Linked DNA regions of Homo sapiens: regions 1, 2, 3, 4 and 6 are each reported to be linked to region 5. The links are microRNA targets in miRTarBase. Many come from high-throughput screens and were not tested one by one. Region 5 holds a microRNA gene; each other region holds the end of a gene's coding sequence.
Evidence for each region. Region 5 holds the annotated microRNA hsa-miR-128-3p (UCACAGUGAACCGGUCUCUUU, at 2,125-2,145, shown strand). A microRNA usually pairs through its seed, bases 2 to 8, with sites in the 3' UTR of a target mRNA and lowers its output. Matches are read on the target gene's strand: a 7mer-m8 pairs with bases 2 to 8, a 7mer-A1 pairs with bases 2 to 7 and ends in A, and an 8mer does both.

Region 1: the mRNA of GCNT2 is a reported target of hsa-miR-128-3p. Seed matches in the 3' UTR shown: 8mer at 992-999 and 7mer-m8 at 1,257-1,263.
Region 2: the mRNA of GAS7 is a reported target of hsa-miR-128-3p. The part of its 3' UTR that is shown has no 7-base or 8-base seed match.
Region 3: the mRNA of ABHD17C is a reported target of hsa-miR-128-3p. Seed matches in the 3' UTR shown: 7mer-A1 at 990-996.
Region 4: miRTarBase lists EN2 as a target of hsa-miR-128-3p. Seed matches in the 3' UTR shown: 7mer-A1 at 3,758-3,764.
Region 6: the mRNA of HAL is a reported target of hsa-miR-128-3p. Seed matches in the 3' UTR shown: 7mer-m8 at 671-677.

What each region holds. Positions count from the first base shown.
Region 1 is chr6:10,625,774-10,630,849 of GRCh38, forward strand. GCNT2 (glucosaminyl (N-acetyl) transferase 2 (I blood group)) reads left to right here. Exons shown (of 5, transcript NM_145649.5): 5 at 644-3,595. The coding sequence ends at 834. Among named protein-coding and RNA genes, the nearest start is that of C6orf52, 66 kb to the right of the region's middle.
Region 2 is chr17:9,912,909-9,917,998 of GRCh38, reverse strand. It overlaps GAS7 (growth arrest specific 7), which reads left to right. Exons shown (of 14, transcript NM_201433.2): 14 at 658-5,090. The coding sequence ends at 771. Among named protein-coding and RNA genes, the nearest start is that of RCVRN, 10 kb to the right of the region's middle.
Region 3 is chr15:80,753,409-80,758,498 of GRCh38, forward strand. It overlaps ABHD17C (abhydrolase domain containing 17C, depalmitoylase), which reads left to right. Exons shown (of 3, transcript NM_021214.2): 3 at 743-2,213. The coding sequence ends at 962. Among named protein-coding and RNA genes, the nearest start is that of CEMIP, 23 kb to the right of the region's middle.
Region 4 is chr7:155,461,851-155,466,850 of GRCh38, reverse strand. It overlaps EN2 (engrailed homeobox 2), which reads right to left. Exons shown (of 2, transcript NM_001427.4): 2 at 2,020-4,480. The coding sequence ends at 4,164. Among named protein-coding and RNA genes, the nearest start is that of EN2, 6.2 kb to the right of the region's middle.
Region 5 is chr2:135,663,322-135,668,411 of GRCh38, forward strand. MIR128-1 (microRNA 128-1) reads left to right here and starts at 2,076; the gene lies at 2,076-2,157. The region is part of intron 19 of R3HDM1 (R3H domain containing 1); the gene reads left to right. It overlaps LOC124907893 (a long non-coding RNA gene), which reads left to right. Exons shown (of 2, transcript XR_007087245.1): 1 at 1-3,236; 2 at 4,440-5,090. RefSeq lists an enhancer at 1,394-1,493.
Region 6 is chr12:95,969,644-95,974,728 of GRCh38, reverse strand. HAL (histidine ammonia-lyase) reads left to right here. Exons shown (of 21, transcript NM_002108.4): 21 at 357-2,067. The coding sequence ends at 497. Among named protein-coding and RNA genes, the nearest start is that of HAL, 24 kb to the left of the region's middle. RefSeq lists enhancers at 3,333-3,978, 3,979-4,624.

The sequences.
Region 1 (5,076 bases), not on the chromosome of region 5:
ACAGTACCGAACTCTAAATATACTTTGTTTTTCCCTGTACATGCATATCTATGATAAAGTTTAATTTTTGAAGTAGGCATAGTAAGAGGTTAACAATAATAACTAATTATAAAATAGAACAATTATAACAATATGCTGTAATAAAAGTTATGTGAATAAAAGTTCTGTGAATAAAAAAGTTATGTGTAATAAAAGATATATGCTCTCTTTCTTTCTCAAAATATCTTAATATTTTTGGATCGTGGTTGACTTCGGGTAGCTGAAACCTCAGAAAGCAAAACTGCAGATAAGGGGGGATTACTGTACATGAATGACCTTGTAACACCTATTATGTTACTAACACAATTTTCATATTAATTTTGATATACACAATAATTAACATAATTAAAATATTAACACCTGTTACTTTATGCCTTGTATGATTTAACTCTCATTTTTTTCAAATAACATATTTGTACCTCTTGTTCTTCTAAATAGAGTTCCAGTTCTTTGTGGGCTGAGACTGCACAATCATATTTCATTTGAATCCTGTACCATTGGCACAGTTGTAGTTAGTCGGAGAGTACCTCTAGTATTCTGTAAGTTCATCACCCTTTTGAAAGCAAGCATGTTTTGACTCTGTTTCTTGTTCTTTCTTTTGCAGGCCACTATGTACATGGTATTTGTATCTATGGAAACGGAGACTTAAAGTGGCTGGTTAATTCACCAAGCCTGTTTGCTAACAAGTTTGAGCTTAATACCTACCCCCTTACTGTGGAATGCCTAGAACTGAGGCATCGCGAAAGAACCCTCAATCAGAGTGAAACTGCGATACAACCCAGCTGGTATTTTTGAGCTATTCATGAGCTACTCATGACTGAAGGGAAACTGCAGCTGGGAAGAGGAGCCTGTTTTTGTGAGAGACTTTTGCCTTCGTAATGTTAACCGTTTCAGGACCACGTTTATAGCTTCAGGACCTGGCTACGTAATTATACTTAAAATATCCACTGGACACTGTGAAATACACTAACAGGATGGCTGGGTAGAGCAATCTGGGCACTTTGGCCAATTTTAGTCTTGCTGTTTCTTGATGCTCACCTCTATATTAGTTTATTGTTAGGATCAATGATAAATTTAAATGACCTCAGATCTTTGCACCAGATACTCATCATATACAAATGTTTTAGTAAAAAAGAGAATTGTAGATAATACTGTCTAGGAAAATAAGAATTAGGTTTCTTTGAAGAAGGAATCTTTTATAACACCTTAACAGTCACCACTGTGCTCAACCAGACAGATAGTGAAACAGCTTTCTGGGTAATTCACCAATTTCCTTTAAAACATAAGCTACCTGAATGGAGAATACATCTTGTTTCTGAGTTTCAACACTAGCATTTTTGGCTTACTCATGGACAAAGTTCTGTATATAGTATAAAGTCATTAACAAGAAACAGGATATGCTTTAAGACAGAATTCACTGTCTGTTGCTTCAGTAAAAGGACCTCGGGGAATAAAACATTTCTCTCTTATATGCCAGAATGTAGGCTGGTCCCTATGTCATGTCTTCCATTAAGAACACTAAAAAGTCCTTGCAAGAATGGAGATATGCATTCAAGAGAGGTGCTATCACATAGATCTAGTCTGAAGTCTGGAACACTTTCCTCTTCTATGACCCCTCTCTCCCCAGTATTATCTTACTTGCAAAATGGAGACCAAATTCTATCCTGTGAGGCTTTTAATTGCACCATAGTATGCTCTGAGTAGCTTTACACTGCCTGGTACTGATAGTAGTGGCTCGATTTTTAAGAGCCTTCAATTGTAGATGAACATCTCTGTTATTTATCCCTCATTCATCCATCCGTTCATTCATTCAGCCTTCAATCAACATCTCTTGAGTGTCTATTATGTACAGGACATGTACTGAGACAAAAAGGAAACATAAGAGCTTTTTCACTCTAAAAATCTTGGCAATAATGTCAACACCAGAAAGCCTCCTCTGGAGAATCTTACAGAGTGATTGTAGTTTAATACAGGAACACACAGGGCTGTGTAGCATGATACCAGGCCCAGGAGATCAGTAATTACAAATTAAGGGTTAAATCAGAGATTATTCAACAGAGAGGGAGAAAGGAGGAGACAGAGGGAGGACCTGTTGTGTTCCAGCCATTCTGGTATTCCTTTATGTATCTAATTTCATTCAAACCTCACAACAGTCTTGTGAGGCCCTTATATAATTACTCCCATTTTGCAGATGAAGTAACTGAGGCTTAGAAAGGTTAATAGCACCGGGGAACAATTTCTCTGGGTGAGAATTGGGACTCTGTTGCTGGTCTTCTCAGTTCATTTCCTGAGGTGGATTTACTGAGAGAAGGTGAAATAAAGCCATATTTAGTATACCAGAGAAGGTAGATTTTAAGAATGGTCTCAGTGTTAATACTGAGAAAAAGTCCTGTCAGTTCAGAAAAAATGTGAAGTCTACTTTAGTATTCCTGTAATACTAAACCGTTGAGTTTCTAAATATTTATTTATTCTAACAAAAAGCAATTACTACAAATGGATGACACATTTAATGAACACAATTTTATTTTTTTTCTGTAACTGTGCTTGTTGAATGTCAATCATATTTAAAGGGAATGACTTTGAAGTAAAACCTTTTTTCTTGCTACTGAAAAAAATGGAGTTGTTTTGGGTGGTAAAGTGTTAAGGAATAGGGACAGCTGGTCACACAAGGAACTCTTGAAGGCCACATGTGAAAACCTGTCACTTGCACAGAGGCCAGTCCCACTAAGGTGACCAGAGTGGGCTCCAAGCACAAACTGCCATTGGCTATAGATGGGACTGTGTCCCCCCAAAATTCATGTGTTGGAGCCTTAACCCTCAATGTGATGGTATTTGAGATGGGGCCTTTGGTAAGGGAAGTTTAGATGAGGTCACGAGGGTAGGACCCTCATGATGGGATGAGTCCCCTTACAAGACCTCTGGCTTGGGCCGGGCGTGGTGGCTCACACCTGTAATCCCAACACTTTGGGAGGCCAAGGCAGGTAGATCACTTGATGCCAGGAGTTCCAGACCAGGCTGGCCGACATGGTGAAACCCCATCTCTACTAAAAAATATAAAAATTAGCCGGGCTTTGTGGCATGTGCCTGTAATCCCAGCTATTTGGCAGGCTGAGGCATGAGAATCGCTTGAACCCAGGAGGTGGAGGTTACAGTGAGCTGAGAGTGCCCCACTGCACTCCAGCCTGGGTGACAGAGCGAGACTTTGTCCCAAAACAAAATAGGTGAGGGGATAGCGAATGCACTCAGGGTCAGCAGTGGAGTTTAAAAATTGTCTCTTTTCAACTTATTTAAATGACAGCACCTGAGAAGAGGAACCGTTTTACACTGGATGTTTCTCATGTAGAACAAGAAATCTTTCTGGAATTGATGTTTACATGTCTGTTGTTGGTCATCTCTCCTGTGTCTTAAATACTTTAATGTTGGAAGAGCATAGTGTTTGGGCTAGTGGGTTTCTGACAGCCCATGGGAATGCCCTGAAACTACTGTATCTGATGTTTGTTTTCGATGAGGTTCCATGTTTTGTTTTCTTGGGAATAAATTAATATATTGTTTTCCACTTCGGGGATACTGTGTATTTTTATATGACAATTGGTTAAAAATCCACTAAAGGATATGTCTAACAAGGCAATTCTCCTGGTGTTAAACAAAATTTACATTCATTCATACATACATGCATACCTGTCTAAGAAACATCCATCCACTGAAAAATCATTAAACTTTCCCATTGTGGGGTGTTGGAGAGAGTAACTGGGAGTGATAGAGAGAAGAGGGCGCAATAGAAGATCAGTGTCATTTGAATTGGGTATAACTTTTTTTTTTTGGTAAGAGTACAAGTATTTTTAAAATTTGAGACAGGAATAAGTTAACTTATTATTTACCTGCCTCTATTGTTCATTTAAAAAAATCAAGATATACATTAGGAAAAAGTTTTATGTTAATATTACCATAATTACTGATCAAGTGCCAATGTTTTTGAGCAGCATTTCAATTGTAAGTTTGATAAATATTGCCTCTAACAGACACATGGAAAATGATCAATACTAAAAAAAAAAAAAAAATCATTTAAAGGACATCTTATCCATCATATTTTTTCAAATAAAAATATTTTAAAGCTAAAGCGAAAAACATTTTAAACTATAATAAATACATACATGCTCATAAACATGGAAATAATGAAGAATATAGAATAAAAAGTGCACTACTTTCTCCAGACATAATCACTTATTTGCTTTTTTTGGTTTTTGTTTTTCTGAGACAGAGTCTCACTCTGTTAACCAGGCTGGAGTGCAGTGGCACAGTCATGGCTCACTGCAACCTCAACCTCCTGGGCTCAGGTGATCCTCCCACCTCAGCCTCCCAAGTAGCTGGAACCACAGGCATGTTCCACTGCACATGGCTAATTTTTGTATTTTTTGTAGAGACAGGATTTTGCCATGTTATCCTGTCTGGTCTCAAACTCCTGGGCTCAAGCGATCCACCTGCCTCAGCCTCCCAAAGTGCTGGACTACAGGCTTGAGCTACCACACCTGGTCAAGTGCTTTCTCAGTGTACTGATATAATCTATAGCAGTGCTGTCCAGTAGAATTTCTGCAATGATAAAAATGTTCTACATCTGCACTGCCCAATATAATTGCCACTCACATAAGCTAATGAGCTCTTGAAATGCAGCTAGTATGATTGGGAAATATTCTTTAACATTTTATTTGGCTTTAATTTTTTTTTTTTTTTTTTTGAGATGGAGGGGACTCATCCAGGCTGGAGTGCAATGGCACAATCTCGGCTCACTGCAACCTCCACCTTCCAGTTCAAGCGATTTTCCTGCCTCAGTCTCCTGAGTAGCTGGGACTACAGGTGCATGCCACCACGCCCAGCTAATTTTTGTGTTTTTAGTAGAGAGGGGATTTTGCCATGTTGGCCAGGCTGGTCTCAAACTCCTGATCTCAGGTGATCTGCCTGCCTCAGCCTCCCAAAGTGCTGGGATTACAGGTGTGAGCCACCGTGCCTGGCCAGCTTTAATTAATTTAAATAGCCACATAT
Region 2 (5,090 bases), not on the chromosome of region 5:
GAGTTTCCAGCCCAGCGGGGCTCCCGGGCGACACGGGGCCTGGGGAGAGCCGCCTGGCGCTAGGCCGTGGCAGGTTAAGTGGCTGCTGCAAGTGAATCTGCCCTAAAGGCGGGCAGTGGGCAGGTGCTCTGGCCTGGGGGTGGCCTCGTGGACTGGGCCTCTCAGGATTGTCCTGGACGTCTGTGTGATTCCGACCCTGGCACATGAAGTGGACACACACGTGAGCTGTTACCCTGAGGAGAAAGAAGCTCGTAACAGTTACAGTAGCTGAAGACATTATTAAATTTCTTAAAAAACAAAACCAAAAAAAACAACTTCTAGAAATATTCACAATACCTAAAGCTCAAGTTTTATTTGTCCTGTTCACTGGTGGTAAATGTGGGGTGGAAGGGATAGAGACAGGTTTTAAGGCCCTCCTGGCCTCTCATCCAGGCCTGGGGTCTGCAGGGTGAGAAGCAGGGTCGGGATGCATACTGGGTTCCCCGTTCACAGCCCTCTTCATGTGCTGTCCCTCAGATGGGCCTCCCCCTGGGGCCCCGGAGCCCTCTAGAGAGGCTGCTCTCAGAGACACTAAGGTGAGGACAGCATGTCTCAGAGGAGACCTCCCTGGCTTGGCCGCCGTCTCTAACAGTGTCGCATTTTCTCTGTCTCTTGCAGACAGTCGAGCCCGTGGATCAGCTGCTTCGAAAAGTGGACCCGGCCAAAGACAGGGAGCTGTGGGTCAGAGAGCACAAGACGGGCAACATCCGCCCTGTGGACATGGAGATCTAGATGGGCCTGTGCAGCTTCGGGGGGTCCTGCTGGGGAGGGGGGCTGGGCTCCCACCATGGGGCCCATGCCGAGTGGATGCCCCCCACCCTCTCTCCTGGGCCACTGAGGAGAGGGGAGAGAGCTGGTGATTCCAGAAGGGTGACCCGGACAGCCTAGCTGGGGGCTCCCCCATATTCCCAGGCCCAGAAGACAGACCCACAGCCCTGCCCTTGTCTCTGAGGCTGAAGACCCCCTGACTCCCATGCTGTGCTTGCCGCTCTGAAACAAACAGAGGCTGGAACTTTGTGGTCCTTGCCGAGTTTTGTAGGGGTCACTGTCACATGCTTGTGCCCTGGAAGCCCCAAGGCTCTTCCTCCAGCTGGCTCCCTTGTCTCCAGGGCTTTGGAGGATCAGGGTAGGGAGGGCTCTGTCTCTAAGCCAGGTGTCAGGATCAGAATCATGGGTAGAAGGTGCCATTCAGCTCACAGCCGCACCCAGAATCCTTTGCAGCCCTCCTTCTTTATTTTTTTCCCATTGCATTCTGGGAGTCCACATCTGGCTTTCTCAGCCACTGTTCATCACCAGGGGTTTTAGGAGGAAGGCTTGGCTCCTGTCTTCCCAGACCCACCATGCCTGGAGAGGTCAGGATGGAACTACCTCATTCGGCAAATTAGCCCCAAATTGAGCGCTGAATCGTGTCCCATGAGATCAGGCGCCATCTGTAAAGTCTCCTCTGGAAATGCCAATCCATCCTTCCCCCAGCTGCTTCCTCGGGGAGGCCCCTGCCCCCACCCTGCCAGCCCTTCCCAGTCTCATTAGAGGAAGCTTTCCAAAGTTCTCAGTTATCAAGACCTCATCCAGCTCGTCCAAAGGCTTCAGGGATGGAAACAAACCAGCTCGTCTCAGAGGCCAGCAAGCTGGGGCCTGTCCGCCACGGTGCCCTGTGCACCTTTGGGCTGCCCTGGCCCCCACTCTCCCGGGCCGCCCACCACAGGCTCTTAATGGGGCCGGGTCAGTCCTACATGTGAGATGGGTTAGGGCAAGTCTTTGCCATCCCCCAGATGGCTCTGTCTTCTTGTGTATGGCAGGGCTGGGACTGCTGTCCCTTGTACAGTTTTCTGTCACTGGTGGGCACTGGACAGGCATAGCAGACTCTCTTGTGGCCACACTAGGTTGTCGCCTTTCAGGCAGTGTCCCGCCACCTTTGCTTCCCGCTCCTTCTGGACATTCCAGAGCCCTGCACCAAACCCTTACTTGGTGTCTGCACCTCCTTTCCCTCTCTCCATCTTCCAATCCCTGGAAAAGTCTGGTCTGAGTGTGACTTGGGAAGCTTTCAGTGCTGCTGTTTGGCCCAGCTCATTACTTTCTCCCTTTCTCTACCACAGCAAACACATTCTCCACCATGTCAGTCTAAAGAGTCTAAAGGGGCCGGGAGAAGCATGAGCGAGGGGCAGATTCTAGTCGGGAGCCCATGCCCTGGAAATCCATCTTTCTTCATCTTTCCCATTGACCACTTTGGGTTTGACCTGCACATCTGCAGTGAGGGCAGAATTCAACAAGCACAACTCACTGGTCTTTCAGTCAACGTGCTAGAAACCGATGACTTATTAATCTCTAATTTTTTGGCGCCTCTTTCATTGAATGAGAATTGCTTTCGTATAGTTCACATTAGAAAAATGCCTAATATACTAAAGTAAACCAAACGTTGTCACTTTTCTCTTGTTCTTGAAACATTGCAACCAAAAAGGTCAGCACAAAGGCCTTCACCTACGTGAAGACCTCCTGGTAGGATCTGTCCATGGGATGGAGAACCACTCTGTCCAGATCTGGGGTTGGGTCATGACACCAGCTACCAATTTTAGAATATTATTTCTTGGTTTCTTTATGAAAAATGGGTGCTAGTGGTAATTGCTTTGTGGCTTAGTAAACTACTCTGTGGATGATTTCCAAACATTCAAAGCCAATAGCCTTGTTATTAACAAGATATTTTGAGTACAATATGGCTCATTGACTTTTCCATTACATCTGAGGATTCCAGAGTCCTCTGTTCATCCCTGGGATAGAGTGAGCCCTCTTGCGTCTTCCAGGGTAGCTCAGGTTGGCCCAGTTTGGGCCAGTCCATTTTTGGAGGTCACTCTTTCCCCCCTCATCCCCTCACCTCCTTCTCTTTACCCCCTTCACGTACTTCCTTTCTTTCTTCCCTCTGTTATTCATTCATCAAGCAGGTTAAAGCCATTGTGCTAAGATCTAATCTGAGGACACTATAATGGCCCTGTCGTCAGGGAAGCCCGTGATCGCTCGTTTTCAGGGGTCTTACCGGTCAGCAACCTTGGCATTGATACATAGGCACTCTACAGAATTTAAGTTTTCAGAGGTAAGTCTGTTGTTCTGATTAATCTGCATTCATTCAGCGAATGCTCAAGACAAGCCAGGCATGCTGAGAAGCGGCGCTCTAGTTGTATGTAAGATGGGCATTCCTCTGCTCTCCTCTATTCTCCATGTCGACTGAGAAGAGTATAATAAGAACATTGTACCCTCTCCACACTTAACCCTCTGGGATTCTTTATTATAATATAAACCACCGTCGTGAGGCATTTACCTGTTGGATGGAAGGTAGACAGCAACAAGATTTTAATCACCTGGTCACCAGACCCTCACGGCCCATATCCAATTCGAATTTCAGAAATTTCTCTGTTTGCTTTAAATAACTCTTTACAAATAAGGGTCGGGCACGGTGGCTCACGCCTGTAATCCCAGCTCTTTGGGAGGCCGAGGTGGGCAGATCACGAGGTCAGGAGATCGAGACCATCCTGGCTAACATGGTGAAACCCCGTCTCTGCTAAAAATACAAAAAATTAGCCAGATGTGGTGGTGCACACCTGTAGTCCCAACTATTCGGCAGGCTGAGGCAGTAGAATCGCTTGAACCTGGGAGGCGGAGATTGCAGTGAACCAAGATCGGGCCACTGCACTCCAGCTTGGGTGACAGAGCAAGACTCCATCTCAAAAAAATTATAAATAACTCTTTGCAAATAGGAAAGTGAAGCTCAAGGGTAACCAGTGAGGCTATGAAATTGCCAGTGAATTAAGACCAGGGCTAGAGTCAACAGTCCAGAACCCCTATCCGTATGAACAGGGGCCCGTTTCTGGTTGAAATCAAGGTTAGGATGCAACTGAGAAAATAAAAGACTGCACTTTGGAGAGGCAAGCACGCTATCCGGGTTGTTGTTTTGTTTTATGTCTTGGTGCTTAGGTGAGGACTTAGCTGGGTTTATTCAAAGTGGGCGGGTCTGGGCTATTCTTGAGAATGTCCCTTCCATTTCTGAGAACAAGTCAGCCCCTTCTACCTGCCTCCACCCAGGAGACTGATGCACAAGATCTGTTTGTGAAAGCCTGATTTAAAAAGAAAAAAAAAATTCCTTAAGCCAAATGGTGTTCCAAGTTGGTTGCTGTGACAACCTCCAGGAAGAGCCACTTGTTACCCTCTATTCTTTCTAGTGCTTTCAGTCAGTGGCAACACATAGGCCCCTTGGACCGTGGGGATGGCGGCCCTGAGATTCTGTCAGTGGGACCACCCTGGGCCTCCTTTCTACCTCCACTCAGCACCCTGTTGGCCAAGGAGAATTTCTGCGGTGGGAGGCAGTGCTCTGCTAGTCAGGATTGATAAACAGCTGGGCACACCGAAACAGTGTACCAACGAATTCACCAACCAGGGGTTTCTTTCCCTACCCTTTGTGAAAACCAATCAATTACTAGATGAGTGGATGGATGCAGAAAAATCTGGGCTGAGCCAAAGTCCCTTTTGGAAATACAAGCCATAACATTCGAAGGACATCAGCGACCTTGGCTTGTTTAGGTGATTTTACTTCCAGCTGCAGGTAGTCTTGACAAGGAGTGTTTAAACAGAAGGCTCAAGATGCATTCCTTGTGTAGGTCGGAGAGAGCACTTCTAATGTTAAGTGGGGTACAGATCAGCTGCCCCCCCACGTAGCCTGGACATCGTCTTATCCCCATAATCCTTGCCATCCCTACAAGGCCCATCGCCACCACCTTTTCCCAGGTTTATTGAGGTATGATTGACATCCAGTAAAATTCACCCTTTGGAAATATACAGCTCTGTGAATTTTGACAAATTTAGTGTCTTGTGACCATCACCAAGATCAACCTGTTTTTAACCCTCCAAAAAATTCCCTTCTCCTGCCCTCTTTCCCTGGCAACCCTGATTGATTATCTGATCCTATAATTTTGCCTTTTCTAGAATGTCATATAAATGGAGTCACACTGATGTCGCCTTTTGAGTCTGGCATCTTTCCCTCAGCTTAATGCTTTTGAGTCATTCAT
Region 3 (5,090 bases), not on the chromosome of region 5:
GTTCATAGTAATGCACCAACGTTGGTGTTTTAGTTTTGACAGATGTATCACGGTAATGTACAATGTTAACCTTACAGGAAATGGGTCAGGAGTATGTCAGGGCACTGTATTATCTTTTTGTTTTGTTTTCTTTTCTTTTCTTTTTTTTCTTGAGACAGAGTCTCACTCTGTTGCCCAGGCTGGAGTGCAGTGGCACGATCTCAGCTCACTGCAACCTCCCACTCCTAGTTCAAGCAATTCTCCTGCCTCGGTCTTCCGAGTAGCTGAGATTACAGGCATGCACCACCATGCCTGGCTGATTTTTGTATACACTGTATTATCTTTACACCTTTCCTGCAAATTCAAAATTATTCTAAAATGCAAAGTTGATTTAAGAAAAAAAACTAAATTACCAGAAAAAAATAAAGCAAGAAAAAGCCAAACTGTTATGATATGTTAATGTAGGTTCATCAAAGGTACTGCTGTGGTAGGGGATATTGATAATTGGGGAGACTGTGCATGTGTGGGGACAAGGAGGTATCTGGGAAATCTCTGTACCTTCCTCTCAGTTATGCTGTGAACCTAAAACTGCTTTAAAAGATAAAGTCCTTAATTTAAAAACAAAACAAAACAAACAAAAAAAACCCACGGTGTTATTTCCCTGCCTGTGGAGATTATTAACTTATCATTAAATGTGATGTGTATTATCTGTGAGCATAACTAATGGAGTCCTCTTTCTGCCTCCCCCCTTTCTGTTTTGCAGCATTGACAAGATATCTAAAGTCACCTCTCCTGTGTTGGTCATTCATGGTACAGAGGATGAGGTCATCGATTTCTCCCATGGCCTAGCGATGTACGAGCGCTGTCCCCGAGCCGTGGAGCCCCTTTGGGTTGAAGGGGCTGGGCATAATGACATAGAGCTTTATGCACAATACCTAGAAAGACTAAAACAGTTCATATCTCACGAACTTCCTAATTCCTGAAGACAACAACTTGATCTTACCTCATTTACTGTGAACAGAAGAGTCCTCTGTTTTGCACATGCTTTAACTGGGTAGCTGTAAAGGCTTGATAACCATGAAGAAGTGCCCAACCTTTAGGGTGTTCTAATCAAAGAGCTGATGAAATCTCAGTCTTTTGTATCTAGAGGTGGTTCTGCTAATTCACACAACACGTTAAACTGAACAGTCGTGATTCCCAGCTTCATTACCTTGCAGGAATGGGAATGAGAGCTGAATGTAGGGACAATTTTCTAGTGCTGTATAAAGTAGCCTCGCATCTGTTTCTCAACCTTATCCATCATTTCTGACATTCATGCAGGACTTGCCCTGTTGCCACCAATGTTCTCGGTATTTCACATGCAGCTCTCTTTCTGCCACTGGATACATGGGTTCAATCCATTTGTGAAGCTGTGATAGTGTAACTGGAAAGCTAGTGTGGTGAAAATTCCTTTATTATTTTTTGTTAACATGCTGATCTTTCCCGGACAAATGAACTGAAGGGTAATTTACTGGAACTCTCGTGTACAGCTTCATCAACTGTAACCATATAAATATAACTGGAATATTCTTAAACAAAAAGAAACTAGGGGTTTTTTTAAGTGTAAATTTATTACTAGCCAACAGAGTTTTACTATTTTGATTGTCTGGTTGGTTTAACAAAGAGCCTAGCTGACTTTCCTTCTGTAAAGTCCTCCTTGTAGGCTTTTTTAAAGTACTGTACATATTTGCAATCACATTGTGCATAGATTCTTAATGGTAGATATGATTTCTTTTGTCAGGCTACAACAATGAACTGCAGATTCCTTGTTTGTAATGTAAATGATTGAATACATTTTGTTAATATGTTTTTATTCCTATGTTTTGCTATTAAAAATTTTATAACATTTCCAAGACAAAAATTCCAAGTTTATGCTTTGAAGAATTTATGTAATTAAAATTTCACTAAACTAATCTTTTTAGTTTAGGAATTATTTGGGTTTTGACACTGGAAGTTGCGCCAAATAAGCATCAGAAATAGGAGATGCTTAACATTGCTATACTACTTGTGTTGGTTAGGGGTTTGGATTTGGGGGTTCTTTGGTTTTAATTTTTTTTTCCACATTTAAAAGCCTTAAATGTACTGTAAGCCTCAGATCGTTGTACAACTGGACTGCGGTTGATTGCCAGTTTGTGTACTGTTGCTTGGATGCGGCACAGTGGTTGGTAATGGAATAAAGGATGCATGGATCAGAATGTGTGGGCTTGTGCAGTTTTTTTCTTCATCTCTCCATCAAAGAAAATAGTGAATAAGAAAACAACTTTTTGTCGTAATGTAGGAAGAAAACCTTGAGGCTTTCAAACTGCACCATCTTTCTCAAGGTATATGGTTTTGTTCTATAAAAGGCCTTGGATTACTTTTGGAAGAAGCCAAGATATAAAGCATATAGCAGTAAAGTGCAGATGATATCTAAATAGAGGATGCAGTGGATTCTGGCTATGAAACAAAATTGATGAAGGTGACCTCATTGTGACCTGGCTCAGAGGAAGGACAGTGCCTCTTTTGTTGGGAAGCCTGAAACAGGTGTGTTCCATAGTTTTCAGCCCTTTGACCAGCTGAGCAGAAAAGAGCAGCTGAGGGATGCTAGTTTTCAACTCTTGGAACGCACTCTCCTAAGGGTGCATTAGGAGGAAGTGGTGGTCAGGAAGGTGTGAAGACATGAGTATGCACATGTGAATGCATGCATATGCCAGCTACTTCCTGATCTTGAATCAGGTGGGTGGGGCTGGCTTACCCGAGGGGGCATCAGCAAAGCTCCAGTGGTGATGCCTGTCCCAAAAGTCTGGGAGACCTAGGTAGGAAAAAGCACAAGCAATGACCTGCCTTTGGGGCCAGAGACCAGCGGGTCAGGGTTGCCAGAGACCTGATTTCTGATTCTATTTGTGTGCTGCTTGCATCTTCTGTAATCCTTACCCCCCTTTTTTCTCCTAAACTATTTAGTAAATTTCTTTTCATCAGCCAAATATCGGGAAATGATAAGATTGACAATAACAGAAACTAAGGTGGCAAAGCCTTTTGCTTCATTGGTTTTGTCACTTGATGTGGATGGTTTGTATCCACTGGAAGCAGCTCGTGCTTTGCCAAAACTGAGGAGGGAAGTTTCTCCAACTTTTGCCAGGGTTTGGCATGGGAACGGCATTCCTCTGAGAATTGCATGTGTGGTAACAGTGGGAACCCCAGGGAGAAATCCTCTATTGGTTTCTGAGAGACACCCCTCCTGAGCTGCAGGCTTTTTCTAGAGCTGTTCTCCATTCAGACCTGGGGCCGGATTCCAGGTGTTTGGTTTCCACTAAGTGAGGATGCGTCTCCTTTCTGAGTGCCTTACTATTTCTTTCTCCCTAGTCAAGAAGGAAAAATTAAGTGGCTACCTGAAGTCCTTGCAAAGTATAGAGAAGGTATATGTATTGTTTCTAATATATGAATTCGTGCCTTACGCTTGTGGAAATCCGTTTATAACTATTAAAAGCCTAGAAGTAACATTCAGAGCAAGATATTGTGACCGTATTATTATTCATTCTGTTGATGATTATTATGCTTTATGATCCCTAAAATTAAGCAGAGTAATACAGATTTGGATCACTCATTATAATCGCATGAGAATCTCAAATCCTAATTTAAATGATTGTAGCATCCTTTGAAAACAAGAATGGAATGATTGCTACTGTCTCAAAATAGAATGAGTCTATAGTTTAAAAAACAAAAAAAAAACCTGTTAGCACTCTTGTTCAAGACTGAATTTTGAATGTGAAAATCAAAGGTTTGAAAGGGCAAATGAATTGTCAAAATACTCTTTTTGGGAACATTTCTGTGACTCTTGGTGTGTGGAGGAGAAATATAGAATCTATAGACTTCGGGGCCTTGATCACTTCAGGAAATGATCACAAGTGTATTAGCCTGCACAGAACAAGAAGGATCCCTTCTTAATGTGAGGGATCACCTTGGGTTCCAGTTGAAAACTGAATGCCCCCTCTCTCAGTGCTCCCCTTTCTATAGGTACCTGCTACTGCCCTATCTTAGAACTAGGACTTGAAAGTGCAAACACATGAAGAGGGTCTGTCTGTTCTAGTCTTTTTCAGGTGAGCCTTTTCAGAGGGAGGATTAGGACCATATCTAATCTGTCTTTGTATCCAAGCTGAGTGATTTTGACCTCGTTCCCTAATTTCTCTGGGCCTCTGATGCTTTTTTTACCCCTTGTTGACCACACGTAGGGCACATAGTCATTAAATGAAATCATGGCTATGCAAATACTGTCCATTTTTTGCTTTATTTTCGACACAGAGTCTCACTCTGTTGCCCAGGCTGGAATGCAGTGATGTGATTATGGCTCACTGCAGCCTCAACCTCCCAATCCTCCCATCTCAGCCTCCCAAATTAGCCACCGTGCCTGGCTAATTTTTATGTTTTCTTGTAGAGGCAGGGTTTCGCCATGTTGCCCAGGCTGGTCTCAAACTCCTGGCCTCAAGCGATCCTCCTACCTCGGCCTCAAAGTGCTGGGATTACAGGTGTGAGCCTCCACGCCCGGCATTTTGTGCTTTGTAAAGCACTGTAAATTGTATTACTGGCAGCAGAGCTACTTAAGATGAAGCTCTCAAAAGAGAATAAAATGATAACATTTGAAGAACTAGGGGAAAGCAAGCACCAGATTATCTTCCAAAAAGTATACTAGGCCCAGGCAGTTATAAGAATAAATTCCTTCAAACTATTAAGAAATAATTCCATAGTATATTAACAGTTCTAAAGGTGCGTGCATGCGCACATCCATTCATACTCAAGAGACTAAAGTGGAGCTCACATACAGAGGCAAAAGTGCTAAACAAAATACTGCAAAATCAATCCTCTATCAAAAGAACAAACAGCATGATCAAATTCGAGTTATACAAACACAGCATTAGGAGATAATGTTACTTTCTGTTTGCTAGTAGTAACTAGTTAGGAAATATCATGGCCAAAAGACCTCACTTACAATAGTACCTCACTTAGAATAGTAACACAGAAAACATACTCAGTGCAATAATGAACCTAGAAGATCTCGTGACTTCTGTTTTCTGCTTTGTGATGGTCCTGGGATGTGA
Region 4 (5,000 bases), not on the chromosome of region 5:
CCGGGCGCACCTGTGTCCAGCGGTGTAGGAGCCCCCATCGATTTGACCTTTTCACTCTAGGAAAACAGAAATGCTGGCGCCCTCTTGGTGGTCAGGCTGGGGTCATTCACATGGCTCCTTCCCTCCGCTCCTTAGGAGAAAGGCAGGGCGGGTCGGCATTGCTGCTGTCGGCGGGTGTAGACCCTGGGATTCTGACTCCAGCCCCCACTCATCCAGCCCCGTTGGCAGAGCTGGGTGCAGCGGAGAAGGAGGGCTCTCAGCGCCAAGGAGCCCCGCCAGGCCCTCTCTGTCCCGCACTCTCGCGGGGGCGCCTGCTTGGGCAGGCCTGCAGGGCGGCGGGTCCTCCGAGGCCAGGACTCCCAGACCCTCGCGGAGTCTCTGCCCGGCTATGGAGCAGTGTGGAGTAAGCTCAGCCTGGGCCCGGCGGGGACACAGCTAGGCCTCGGGCGCGGGGGTCGTTCAGCTCGAAGGAGCAAGGACTTTATAAATGAGCTTTCCTCTTCTGCACACTTAGGGAACCCTCCTCCTGTGGGGTAACAGTCTGGCCGGGGGCCCAGTCGTGGGGCGGTGTCTGCAGTCCGGGTCCAGATCCGCGGCACGCAGAGCCCGGGAGGCCCGAGAGGAACCAGCGGGCAGAGGACTTGGGAAAGGCGCACCGACTTCCCTGCAGGCCTGACTCCGGTCTCCATGGCGAAAGCAGGCAGGTGGCACAGCCGCGGCTCTCCATGAGGGAGCAGCTTAGATTATATGCTGTTGGATTAAAATGTAATAAACATAGGAGTAAAAAAAAAAAAAAAAACTCAGCGTTTCAAGGGTCTGAGGACTCATCCAGTTCCAAAGAGAAAGAACACTCTCCATGCCACTGTAAGCCTAGCGTCTGCTTGAACACCTCTGAGGACGGGGAACTCATTACCTTACAAAGCTGTGCCTTGCCCCTTTTCAGTGTTATACTTTGAAAACAGATTTTTAAAAAAATGATCGCTTCATGTTACCGTATTTTTATTAAAATAAGAGAGAGGCCAATACGGCAATAGAAGTTGTGCCAGTATTTTTTGTTTGGTTTTTAATCTACGAACTTTCTGAACTGTTCAGAAGTCGGGGTTCGCGGGGAATGCGTGGTCTCGCGCCATCAGCGATGACCCTGGGGCGCAGCTCGGGCCCAGGCAACGAGAACTCGGGAGTCTCCGCGGTGAGACCCCAGCTCTCTCCTTCCAGGGTTCTGAAAATCCCGAGGGGCAGCCCCCAGACCGCTTCCTGGCAGGGCAGAGGCCCAGCCCAGAGGCCCCGCTTCCGCCTGGGAACGCCAACGGCCCAGCTGCCTGGGGAAACAGAAAACGCCTAAAAAGTCGTCTTCGGTAACAGATCACCAGTCTCTGAGTTTCTTTTACAGGGAGAAGAAAAAAAATTTTTAAGCCATGAAAGTTTGGAAAAACAGCAATTCAACGCGTAGATCACTCGCTCAAAGACCCCAAACACTTCCTGATGAGCGGAATCCAGAGGCGCGGTCAGCACAGGCGAAGCTGATCCCTCCCCCAATCCTGCTTAGGAAGTTGTACAAAGTCTTTTGTTTTGGGGGGGAAACAACAAAAGGTAAACAAAAATGACACTTTGAAAAGGAGAGTCTCTTTGTCTCAGTGGAGTAAAAAGTTCCTGTCCCCAGGGGAAAGCGCCTCGGTCCAGCACGGGTGGCAGGGCCAGTGAGCACCCAGCCGGAGGGAGACCTGTTGAACTTCGCAAAATTTAAAAAAATGTAGTCACTGGAATAGCACCGTAGTTTTGAACACTTCCTCCTGGTAACAAAATGTGTACTTCTTTTGGTTATTCTGTGCTCACATGTGACATATCCAAACTGTCTTATTTAAAAAAAAATAATAATCACCTCTCGCTACAAAGGCACCTGGCACCTGCTCCCAGGCGGGGCGAAGGCCATGAGCACCTGAGTACTGGGGAGGATGCCCAGGCAGTTCCTCTGGACTCAGACATGCTTAGAAAACTCATCATTCCACCTGGGACCTTCAGTATTTTATAATAAAGAGATTTTGTTTTATTTAATGTAACCTTCAAGAATTTCAACACACAAAAATGCGGGGGTGGGGGTGTTCACAATTTTGATAAGCACAGTTGTAAATAGAAACATTCATTCATTTCTCATAAGATTATAAATATTTGATACTGGAACTGTAAAATGCACATGTTTTATAAACTAAAACAACAAAGAAAACAAAAAACAGAAACCAACTTTGCTTCCTGCTAAAAAGGCATGTCATTTCATTGAGTTTCCTAAGCAGCAGATGGTTATTCAGACTTTTAAATTACAACTTTTGTTTTTATACTTTCCTTTTTAAAAAGGTTTACACTATTATGTACAACGTAAAACTATTACTGCAATGAAATAAAGAGGTTTAAGGCAAAGAGCGAAGTTCACCCTCAGTCCTCAGGGAGACCAGCGGGACTCCCAGCTCAGCCGTGTGCACACCCCTGGGTCAGCCGTGGGCACACCCCCTGGGCTGTCCCAGCCACAGATGGACAGTTGGATTGGTCTTTCCCCATACACTAAACAGAAGACAGTGTGGCGTTATATATAGATAATGTGTTTGTTTATATACATATATAGGTACTTGGTGGGAAATATATTGAATATATTTAATTTACACTGTACCACACCTTCAAAAATAAAATGTATATTTTAAAAAACAAGAAAAGACAAAAAGTGATGATAAGAAATGATTATTTACACACTTTCTTCCTTCTTCTAGATCCTGGAGGATTCTGAGTTCTTTTGAAAGACAAGGTAGCCACATGTTTCAGAACTGTGGACTCAAACACGCCTGGTGTGTGTGTGTGTGTGTGTGTGTTCACATGCATGCAGACATATGTGTAAACACACATATTTATCTTGGAAGAATGTTCTCTATAGCAGAAGCAGCCACTCCAAGAAAAGAAAAAAATAAAGGAAAAAAAGAAAAAAATAGGGAAGAAAAGAAAAAGGAAAGGAAGATAGATGATGCCATCTCCCTCTACAGAGCCTTCTGCCCGCCCAGAAACAGTGAGCCATGGCCTCATTTCTGGGACCCTGGCTGGCACCCATGATGGCTGGTGGAGTCACAGGAAATTCCTGGGGCCAAGCCAAAAGGAGGGTCGCCCCACCGCTCTTGGGCTTTAGGCCACACACCCCAGGCCTTTAGCCCCAGAACCTCGAAGCGCTTCTGCATGGAGGCAGTGCCCAGGGCAGGAGGGTTAGGCCTGCGGCAGGACTGCGGTGGGACTGGGGACAGCGACACAGACCACAGACGCAGACGATGTATGCACACGGTTGGGCCCTTGGTGAGGAGGAGGAGGAAAGAGAAGGAGGAGGAGGAAGGAAGGAGGAGGAGGAGAAGAAAAAGAAGAAGAAAGGAGGAGCAGGAGGAAGGAGGAAGGAGGAAGAGGAGGAAAAAGGAGAAGGAGGAGGGAGTTAGGTGCAGGAGGGTGAGGAGAGGGAGCCGGGTGAGGCTGCGGGCCTGGGCGGCTGCTGGTGAGCATGGAGCCGACTTCCCAGAGCAGGCCTGGGGTACGCTGGGCTGCTTCCCAGGGCCAAATCCCAGAACTGGCCCAAGGACCCTGGAAGTCCCCTCTCTCCCACCAGGTCCCCTAAGCTCCCCAAGGCCTTGAGGTGGCTGGTCCAGGCTTGAGGTGTGGGCCCCTCCTGCTGTCCTCACCAAGCCAACACAAACAAAGTGGCAGAAGTCATAGACCAAATAGGAGCTATTTATTCGGTTCACAGTTGTGTGAAATGCAGCAATAAAAAATCTTTGGACTTCAGCAAGTTGTTTTAATTTTTTCTTCTTTTGGAATAATAAAAAAGTGTCCAATGTCATATAATGGAGCTTAGGGGATTAAAAAAAGGTGAAACCCTAAGCAGCCCCCTTCGCAAAAAAGAAAAAAACCCATAAAATTAGCATAATCTCATAAACACAAAAAACTCAAAAAAATATTTTATAGTCAGATATTTTGGATTTTATACCACCTGTAAATGATATATACATAGAATATTTCAGAACCTTAGCTAATACACAATATTTTCACTATTAATGCTGGTATAATCTTTATACACTGGCCCTTTATGATTTTAAATTATTGCATTGTTTAGCGCGGACTGAGACCTGGCCTCCATGCCCCCCGCCCTACTCGCTGTCCGACTTGCCCTCCTTGGCTGTGGTGGAGTGGTTGTACAAGCCCTGTGCCATGAGGTGCACGGCCAGCGTGTTCTTGTTGCCCGTGGCCTTCTTGATCTTGGCGCGCTTGTTCTGGAACCAAATCTTGATCTGTGACTCGTTGAGGCTCAGCTCCTGCGCCAGGCTCTGGCGCCGCTGCTCCGTCAGGTACCTGTTGGTCTGGAACTCGGCCTTGAGCCTCTGCAGCTGCTCGGCGGTAAAGGCCGTGCGCGGCCGCTTGTCCTCTTTGTTCGGGTTCTTCTTCTTTGGTTTTCGAGACCTGGGACCTGGGTAGATACGGTGGACAGAGAGAAGTCAGGTTACCCAGAGGTGTGCCACCCAATAGGCACCGGGTAAGGATTCTGGGGCCCCAAGAGGGAAGTGACTCGCCCAAGGCCACTCGAGGCTGAACCGCCAGATGTGGGGCTAGACTTCGGACTGGGCATGGGCTCAACGCGGACCTCCACCACTTGGTGAGGGAGGACTGCGTGTGATGTAAGTGGGACTATGGGGCAGGCCTAGTGGGCAGGCTGACCACAAATGAGGGGTCTCTAGATAAAAGTAAAACTCCTGGATGTAAGCAAAACTCCCCACACTTTCTGGCCTGGTTTTTCCTAGTCCTTTCTGAGGCTCTCTGTTCAGGAACAGGGATGGCGGTAGGTGCTGAGAGAGAGGGGAGGAGAGAAGACTGGGAAAGGCTGCAGGGCGGTCACAGAAGCAGGAGGCGCCCTGAGGGCTATGATGGGGACCCTCATGGGGATACCCCACAGGGTGCCAAGGGCTGTGGGAATCAGGGGCAGGTGGGCC
Region 5 (5,090 bases):
TGCTACAGGCACAAAAAAGAGAATCATGTCTTTGAAAAATGTTTGACATTGTGTTTGACTCTTATGAGTCAGTCATAATATAACACTTTATAAAAGCTAGACTTGTCCTTTCAGCTGTTTTATATAGTATCCTCTTAACTTACAGCTTAAGTTAGTTGACTCATTCAGTTTGAAGAATAAAAGGAATAAATCCTCAAAGCATTCTTATCTAAAAGAGAAAGGAATTTTGTTATGCTAATAAGTATCATAGAAAATTTTCCTTTAAAGAAAAGTTCAGCAGGGCCAGTGCCAACTGTTGTGTTGGTAATTGTATTGAACCTTTTCATAGAATTAGTGGGGATTTGAACTCTTTTTTAAAAGTTATAATCTAAAGACTTTTTTATAGTTAGCTCATCATTAATTTTTATGTCAAAACTTGCAGAAGGCCAGGCACGGTGGCTCACACCTGTAATCCCACCACTCTGGGAGGCCAAGGCGGGTGGATCACCTGAGGTCAGGAATTTCAGACCAGCCTGGCCAACATTGTGAAACCCTGTGTCTACTTTAAAAATACACAAAAAAAATTAGCCGGGCATGGTGGCGCACACCTGTAATACCAGCTACTCGGGAGGCTGAGGCAGGAGAATCGTTTGAACCTAGGAGGCGGAGGTTCCAGTGAGCTGAGATGGCGCCACTGCACTCCAGCCTGGGCAACAGAGTGAGACTGTCTCAAAAAAAAAAAAAAAAAACTTAACAGAAAAGTGTGCATTTATGTTTGTATGTGCCCTAGTGTAGAAAAGTAAAATGTACTGGGAAATTAACATGATAGTTTATTGTTTTTGAGTTTTTTTACAGGTATATAGCAATTACTGTCTCATAATTTACATTTTTATATGGAAACATACTTCTGGGTTTCCTTTTGGTTTTTATTTTCTTACCTCTCTACATTCTACTATCCCAATCTGATTAAAAATGAGAAATACTTTTTCATATCTCTTATATTTGTATTTCTTGTCAAACAACACTTGCTTACCCCACAGTGTCAAGAAGCATGTTTTTTTTTAATTACATAAAAGGGTGAAACTAATTATTCAACCAAATAATGAAAACACTAGTAGACTTGGAGCAATTTTTTTTCACTGTGGCACAAGTAATGTTTAAAAGTTTGTATTTGAACTTAAAGAAATTTTGCCCTAAATTAACAAGCCCAACTGAGCAAAGTATTTTTAGACCAGATAGGGTATGGGCAGTAGAAATACAGGATCTTTCATTATTTTTCCTTTGGTGGATAGGGAGGAGGATGGGGAAATATCTCAAGGATAAAATGCTCTAGGTCTTTTATCCATGTGTCCCAGTGGACCACAACTGAAATCAGGACTAACATTACTGCTGGGGAAATGAATGTACTAGTCTTTTGTTATGAATGTGAAACTACTGAACTGTTCATTCAAAACAAGGTTGAGTAAACCCCTGTCAACAGAAACAGAAGAAACCCTGGCTACACACATAAGACTTTCTGAACAATGCACTGTATAATGGGAAAGAACAACAAAATAAAAGTCAGAATCCTGATGGCCCTTAGTCATTTGTAACTGGTGTTAGGCATATCACTTAAAGCCACTGAGTTTCAGTTGGACTCATTTGCAAAGTATGGAATTTTTACTGTGTTGTCTGTTGAAGCCTCTGTGTACTGTAAAACTCCATAATTCTTTGTGTCTCATGTGAGTCATTTCTAGTTCTAAAAGGTAGAATAATAGAGAATTGGTTTGTAACAGCTTGGCAACCAACTGTCAATAACTGGAGTCAATGAAAGCAACTATTTCAAAAGATCAGATTACTTACCAGTTTCACTAATAAAGATTTATTACTTTAAACCTTTATCATAAAATGTATGCTTTGAATACTGTGAAGTACACTGCATATAAGGAGTGTGGTATAGTATAAAGAAACTTTCTGCAGGTAGTAATTATAGTGAAGATTTTAGGTTTACAAAGCCCTAGCTGTTTTCTGTGTAGCTTTTATTATTCTTATGACTCTTGACAAGTTTGTAGCTTCACCATATACATTTAATATTTTGCAATAATTGGCCTTGTTCCTGAGCTGTTGGATTCGGGGCCGTAGCACTGTCTGAGAGGTTTACATTTCTCACAGTGAACCGGTCTCTTTTTCAGCTGCTTCCTGGCTTCTTTTTACTCAGGTTTCCACTGCTTTTTTGCTTTTTTTAATGCTGTATGAAGGTGTTAACATTTGTTTATATTTTTCATTAATTGTAATACCTTTAAATCATGCATCATACTCAGAAATAGGGATTAGAATTTAAGTGACATCTTTGGCCTAATATAATTTACCTGTTAAAAATTTGTGAAAGCTATTGCTTATTTCTTTTCCAAAGTAGATTTGGATGACAAATTCAGTTTGGTTTTGAGCTTATCTAAAAAGCTTAATGTTTTAAGCATACCAAACTCATTAGCAGAAGTCAAATATGTCTCTCCCTATTGCTACACAACTTTTTAGGGATATTGTTATATATGAAAGCATGACATCAAACGGACCTAATACACCTAAATGCATTTGAAGCTACTTGGTCTCGGTTCTTACCAACGATATAATTTAATTTTTTTTTCCAAACGATGATGTTGTTGCATACCTGTGGAAAGCAAAATGATTCTGTGAAACTATACTTTTAGTTTTGCAACCATTTGATAACTTCAAAGATTATCAATGTATTATATCTTTAGTCTTAGCTTTCCAGATAACCCAGAATCATATGGTTCCAAGTTGATTAAGCTTTGTTACCAGCAGACTATGGTAGGATCCTGATGAACGACACTATGGAAGAAACTTGTTAGGATAAACAGTCTTCAATGTGTGCATATTGTTGACAGAATTTGAAGGCACAAATTTAAGAGTAACTAGGGTGTAAAAGGCGAGCAAAGAAAAGTCAGCACTACTGGGTAAGCAGGTGAGGGGGCTTATTGATAGGAGAGTCGGCTATGTCAAATAGGGACTCAAGGCACAAAGTCAATTTCTTTACTGACAACTTTCAATCCAAGTAATAGGAATTTTGTATTTGTAAATTACTAGGTAGTGGCTCTGGCTATTCTTGTTTTTTCATTGATTTCTGTGAGCATTTCTTAGTATGTATTGTGTGATTCAGCATAGATTCAGACATTGTATAATACCTACAAATCCACCTATTTCCCTTTTCCCTTCTCCATTAACCTGCCGCCACTGAAATCTGGAGCCAAATATATCTGGTAAGTACCCACAGATTTCCTTGAGTTGTATAGACTCTTCCATGGAATAGTTCTTTAAATAGCTGTGAGCAATAAACTCTGTGTGACTGTTTTTGTTAGAATTGGTTTTTGTATATGTATATGTTTATTTCAGGCACAGGAGTGAGAGAAGAGGGGATGAGAGATGAGAAGGGATAATCAAGTGTGATGGCAATTGCATCTCCTTCCAAATACACCCATGGGGCTGGCTTTAGTTGAACTTGCCCACCTACTAAAATAGTGCCACAGACAGAAGCCCAAGATTATAAGCTTGAGGTTTTAACAATTTGGTCTTGTAGATGCCTAGTTACAAATAAATTTGGCTTTAGTAAAATGGCTCATCTTTAAAAAAAAAAAAAAAGAAAACTACCTTCACAGTGCTTCTATTGTACAAGCACAGTCTGGAAAAAAAATTAATAGGTACTATTAAGTGAAATAACCTTAGATTCATGGGTATTCTAAGCATTTCTTTAATACTTTTTGTAATTTTTCTGATTATTTCTGTGTTATTAAGAATGCTTTCCTTTAGAACAAATGCTAGTTCAGATCACCTATATAAAATAAAATCAGCCTGTTAATGCCTGTTCAATACTTTTGTGCTGAGCACTGCATTTCCTTCCTGCTCTCTTCTTGGTTAAAGTGAGAGTTAAAAATAGAACATTCTGTGGAGCCCTCCAGGGAAGTTCCTGAACCATCAGTTTATATTGTCCTAGTTCTCTTAGCTTGCAGAATTGATTGTGCTTTCCTCTGAAAGTGCTGAAAGAAATGGGATAATATTGCAACAGTGCAGTCCTTTAACAAAACAGAATGGTAGTGTTTTAAAAAAAAAAATCTATGTTGAGATCTGGATATTTATTTTGTTGTTTGGTATCACTTACTATTGGCATTTCTTACTTTACAAAATAGAGGCTTTCCCACAATATTGACGTAAATTCCTATAAAAGATATAGTGTTTTCCTCTACTTTCCAGATTAAATTCAGATGTATCACAGGAAGAATTTTTTTTAATTCTAATATACTAAAATATACTTTTTAGTGAAGAAAGAATAATTTATGTGGTAGCCAAGTTGGAGTCGGGATACTGGAAATACTCTTCTTGTAGCATTTTTGAAACCTGTTGATACTTTTCATTCTCTAGAAATCTACTTCTCCTTCCTAATCCTCAGCCTTCTCCCTCTTTTCCAGATCATTGGATTTTTCTTTCTCAAACTTGGCAGTCTTCAAACTATACTTTTGACACTATGAGAACTCTGTACCCACTCTTGCTTTTGTCTGAATAATTAGACAAGGAACCTAACCTACAATGCCACTTCTCTAGGTGTCACTCTGTAACGGTTCATGCCCAGCAGTCTGAAATTTCTTTGTTTAAACAAAAGTTCAGAGGAATTCATGAGCAACTTGAACAGTTCAAGATGTAAATTTTATTAAGCAAATGTACATAATGTGAGGCATACCTGTAATTAAATGATCCTTTATTTTATGTTAACAATTATTTTATTAATGATTTTGTCTTACATAGGCAAGAGTAAGGTTCTTATCTTTGATTGGATTAGGAGAATGATGTGGGCTTTTTTGTTTTTAGTGCTTTCCAGCTGAGTATTTCTAGTTTTGCTTGTGATTATAGTAATTTTAACCAACATAGATCCCAGTTTTATTTTCTTTTTCATTGGAACAAATGTTAGCCTGTTAATGCCTGTTGAGTACTTTTCTGCTAAGCACTGCATTAGAAAAAGACCAATAATCTTTTAGTAATCTTTAATGTTCTGCTCTTTAGAGAATATAATTCAAAATTATATACTTTTTAGCCAGTTGCTGTGTTGTATGTTATAATTATTA
Region 6 (5,085 bases), not on the chromosome of region 5:
GAAAAAAACCACATAGGTACTGTTAAGACCCTGGAGCAACTATCCTTCACTCTATCCACACTGAATTCTCTGGGTTTTGTTATTTGCTTGCTTGTTTTGCTTAGGAAAAGTATGCAGCTTAAAATCTTTATGATGACTTTAGAAAGTTTTGGACTTTGTATATTTACAGTCTTTAATGCAACCAAAGACTAATTGACACAGGTCATGTGTCAAATGGCTTAAAATAAAAGCAAGCAAACAGCAGCTGTGTCTGGTCATGTATAGAGTATGTTTTGACTTCGGATGAAGTTGATGTTTAATAGCATGTGGAAACAATGTCGTCAATATTTCAACTTTGTTTTGTCCTTGCTTTTCAGGTTTGGGAAGTAGCTGCTCCATACATTGAAAAATACAGAATGGAGCATATTCCAGAATCAAGACCTCTTTCTCCAACAGCCTTTTCACTGCAATTTCTGCACAAGAAATCCACCAAAATCCCGGAGTCTGAGGACCTTTAATGGGCTTTGTCATGAAGTAGCAGATGAGAGGGCAGTCAGTTTAGCACAAAGCAATACTAGGCTGAAGGAGAGACCTGAGAACTTTCCTAGGTAGATCAATCCATTGTATCATTCAGTTCTTCTAAAGCCTACGTTGGTTAGGCTGATGGCAGTATTATAGTTGCTAAATTCAGCACTGTGTTCCTGTTGTCGTGGTTCAAGACCCACCAGGTATTTTCAGATTATAAAACTTTTCTTTCTTTCTTAACAGTTTCAACAGGCCACTCACTCTTAAGGGTGAGAAGAATAACCACAATTGTATGTGCCTGTTTTTTACTCTTAGCATTAGATGAATTCAAATTTGGAAACAGATTGATAGCAATTTTTTCTAAAAACATTAGACTTTTGTTAACCTTTTTTTTTTTTTTTAAATTTGCTTCAACAAGCTCTCCACCAGTTGACTTTCTTTGGCTAATTTTACTTTGCATGATATGCCTTAATATGCCTTCATAAATAACCATTTTAAGTCATAATTTGTCCTTAAGCTGCTTTTTTCTTCTATTAATTGGATCATAGTAAAGAGTAGTCAATAGGGTCTTCAGCTATTAATTGTAGAGGTGATTAAAACCAACAAGGAGTTTCATGTGCAAAGGAGATAAGGAATGAATATAAAGATTGCTATTTGGGTGGCTCTTATTAAACTGTGTATTTTGTACTTATCACTACACGTATCCCCCAAATGCTTACATGGGAGTTTGAGGTTAGTATTTTCACTTCCTTGGTGTTAGTACTCTATTCACATTCTTATTGTAACCTTCCTCATTTCACAGATAAGGAATCTTTGGGGATTAACCAACCTCCTTTCTGTAATGGTAATCATTAAAATAAGTCCTATTGATAAAGGTCAGATGGAGCCCTAGAGTGTATTACTGCATCTATTTTTTTCCCCGAGAAGATAAAGGACCTTCAGGGATGGCTTAAGTGTATCTGTCCAGATGAAGGATGGGTCACATGACCTCTTGGCTTCCCAAGTCTAAGCTCTGTGACTTTGCACCAGTGTGTGCATATATGTGCAAGGCCCTTCAAGTGGTCTGAAACCGTGGCTCTAAAAACCACAGCTGGTGGAGAGGAGGACAGACACACTTGCCACCTTGCCTACCTAATTGCCATCTAAAATGGGCCGAACAGTGGATTTCACAATAGAGTTTTCACCCTTTAGATTTACAACCTGTCAGGTGGAAACTGAAGTGAAAACTGCTGCACACAGCAATTCAGGGAGCAAAAAATGTGCTGAGGAGACTGTTTACCTAAAGGTTGTTCTTGGTGCTATTCCTTGTCAAAATGTGAACACACACAAATGAGGTTTGTGCATTGTCATCCGTGGGCTGCCATTGAGCCAGTAACCCCCAGTGGTCTCATGGTGCTCTTCGCTCCAGTTTGGGGAATGCTGGATTCTTTCAGCCCCTGCAGCCCTCCAGGTCAAAATGACACTTTGTCACTGAGTTTTCTACACAGCTCTATTAGTAACTGACAGCACACGCCTTCAAGGGAACTTCAAGGGAAACATGGAATAAACTAAGTCTCAATTGCCTTATGGTGTCGCTTTATTCTTAGGTATTTATAGCAAAGTTAAGCGCCTCTAACAGCAGTTAATCAAGCTTCTGAAGGATTCAGTTGACAGATGTCAACCGTTTTAAGAACAATATGCTTGACTCAGTACACTCTTTTTCCCATTGGCTAGCAACAAAAGAGTTGGAGGTATCAGGATTTCCTCCCCAGCCCCGCAGGCTCACCTGGTCTTTGTCACAAGTTGTCTCAGGGCAGCTGGAGGAGGCAAACCCTAAAGAACAAGGGCTTTTCAAGTCCCTGTTGTGCCACGTTCGCTAATGTCCTGTTGGCTAAAGCGAGTCACGTTCCAGGCCCAGAGTCAATTTGGGAGGGTAACACTCAAGGGCATGGGCATGTGATTTGACGTGATCCATGGGCCTGTATCTGACAATCTACCACATGCATAAAATCCCATCACAGGCTGGGTGCAGTGGCTCATGCCTGTAATCCCAGCACTTTGGGAGGCCAAGGTGAGTGGATCACGAGGTCAGGATTTCAAAACCACCCTGGCCAAGATGGTGAAACCCTGTCTCTACTAAAATTACAAAAATTAGCCAGGCACCGTGGCAGGTGCCTGTAATCCCAGCTACTCGGGAGGCTGAAGCAGGAGAATTGCTTGATCCTGGGTGGCAGAGGTTGCAGCGAGCCAAGATCGTGCCACTGCACTCCAGCCTGGGTGACAGAGTGAGACTCCATCTCAAAAAAAAAGAAAGAAAGAAAAAAAAGAAAAGAAAAAGAAAAAAAAGTCATTACAACCGGCAAAATTCAAAAGCAGATACATTTCATACTGCTTTAAACCTGTGTCTGATTTTTGGGTCTGGTCACTGGATTGCTTTTTATTAAACTTTATGGTTCTCTTTATGGTTCATTTTGCTTTTTTTTTTTTTTTTTTTTGAGATGGAGTCTCGGCTCTGTCACCCAGGCTGTAGTGCAATAATGCTACCTTAGCTCACTGCAAACCTCTGCCTCTTGCGTTCAAGCAATTCTCCTGCCTCAGCCTACCGAGTAGCTGGAATTACGGGTATGCGCCATCACACCCGGCTAATTTTTGTATTTTTAGTAGAGATGGGGTTTCACCATGTTGGTCAGGCTGGTCTTGAACTCCTGACCTCCAGGGATCCACATATCTTGGCCTCCCAAAGTGCTGGGATAACAGGCGTGAGCCACTGCTCCCAACTCATTTTGCCTTTTTGCTTACTTTTGTTGAGAGTATTAATTTATTAAATGTAAACATTGTAAATGTAAATGTAAATGTAAAAAATAGTTGGAGAACATTAGTTTCAGCCCAGAGGGTAGACTTCATTAGTCTAACATACAAAAGACAGTTAAATTACAATGCTACAAAGGCTATCATAGAGATGTGGGAATGTGGGGAAGGGCGTCCAGCTCCAGTTTCCCATGTAAGGAAGAGAAGGAAAGCATTCTGGGCAGAGGGAACCGTATTGCATGGCCCTGAGCAGCTCACTGTCCCCTAAGGAACAGTGTGAAGATTGGTGTGATTAGGGCTTAGAACTCAGAGCTGCTCAGACCTTAATGTGCATGTGAATCACCCGGGGCTTATTAGCATGCAGATTCGGACTCAGCAGGTCTGGGTCCAGCCAGAGGTTCTGCATTCCTAGCAAACTCCGTCAGTTGCACGGGCTTGCAGCACGCTGGCCTGGGAGGACTAGGGCAGTTTGGGTAGATGTCTTTTTCTGTCTTCTTTCAAAAAAGGCATGAATGCTATTTGTTTAAAGTGAGTGCCTCCTAGATGAAAAATCAGATGTGCTTCTCCTTCTTGTTTCTTCAATAGAAGAATCTAATCTTGTGTTGCTTGAGTTCCAGGGAAGACTCGACCTAACATTCCGTTTTGGCTTTTATGTGTATCTCCTGCGCCCCAAATGTTCAGTGCCTAGGTGACTGGTCACAGGGGAGCCATCACACACAGCAACTGTGTGCCCCCTACACTGTCTCAAGACTTCTTAAATAATCGCATGAGGTTCAGAGCTCCAGAGACCCCATTGTGATTGTGTCCGGAATTGGTGGGTTCTTGGTCTCACTGACTTCAAGAATGAAGCCGCGGACCCTCGGGCTGAGTGTTACAGCTCTTAAGATGGTGCGTCTGAAGTTGTTCGTTCCTCCCGGTGGGCTCGTGGTCTTGCTGAGCTCAGGAGTGAAGCTGCAGATCTTCGTGGTGAGTGTTACAGCTCATAAAAGCAGCGTGGACCCAACGAGTGAGCAGTAACAAGATTTATTGCAAAGAGCGAAAGAACAAAGCTTCCACAGTGTGGAAGGGGACCCCAGCGGGTTGCCAATGCTGGCTCGGGCAGCCTGCTTTTATTCTCTTATCTGGCCCCACCCACATCCTGCTGATTGGTAGAGGCTAGTGGCCTGTTTTGTCAGGGCGCTGATTGGTGCGTTTACAATCCCTGAGCTAGATACAAAGGTTCTCCACATCCCCATCAGATTAGTTAGATACAGTTTCCACACCCAGGTTCTCCAAGGCCCCACCAGAGCAGCTAGATACAGAGTGTCGATTGGTGCATTCACAAACCTTGAGCTAAACACAGGGTGCTGATTGGTGTATTTACAAACCTTGAGCTAGATACAGAGTGCCGATTGGTGTATTTACAATCCCTGAGCTAGACATAAAGACTCTCCCTTTGGGAGGCCGAGACGGGCGGATCACGAGGTCAGGAGATCGAGACCACCCTGGCTAACACGGTGAAACCCCGTCTCTACTAAAAATACAAAAATTAGCCGGGCATGGTGGCGCGCGCCTGTAGTCCCAGCTACACGGGAGGCTGAGGCAGGAGAATGGCGTGAACCCGGGAGGCGGAGCTTGCAGTGAGTCGAGATTGCGCCACTGCACTCCAGCCTGGGCGACAGAGCGAAACTCCGTCTCAGAAAAAAAAAAAAAAAAAGACTCTCCACGTCCTCACCAGAGCAGCTAGATACAGAGTGTTGATTGGTGCACTCACAAACCTTGAGCTAAACACAGGGTGCTGATTGGTGTATTTAC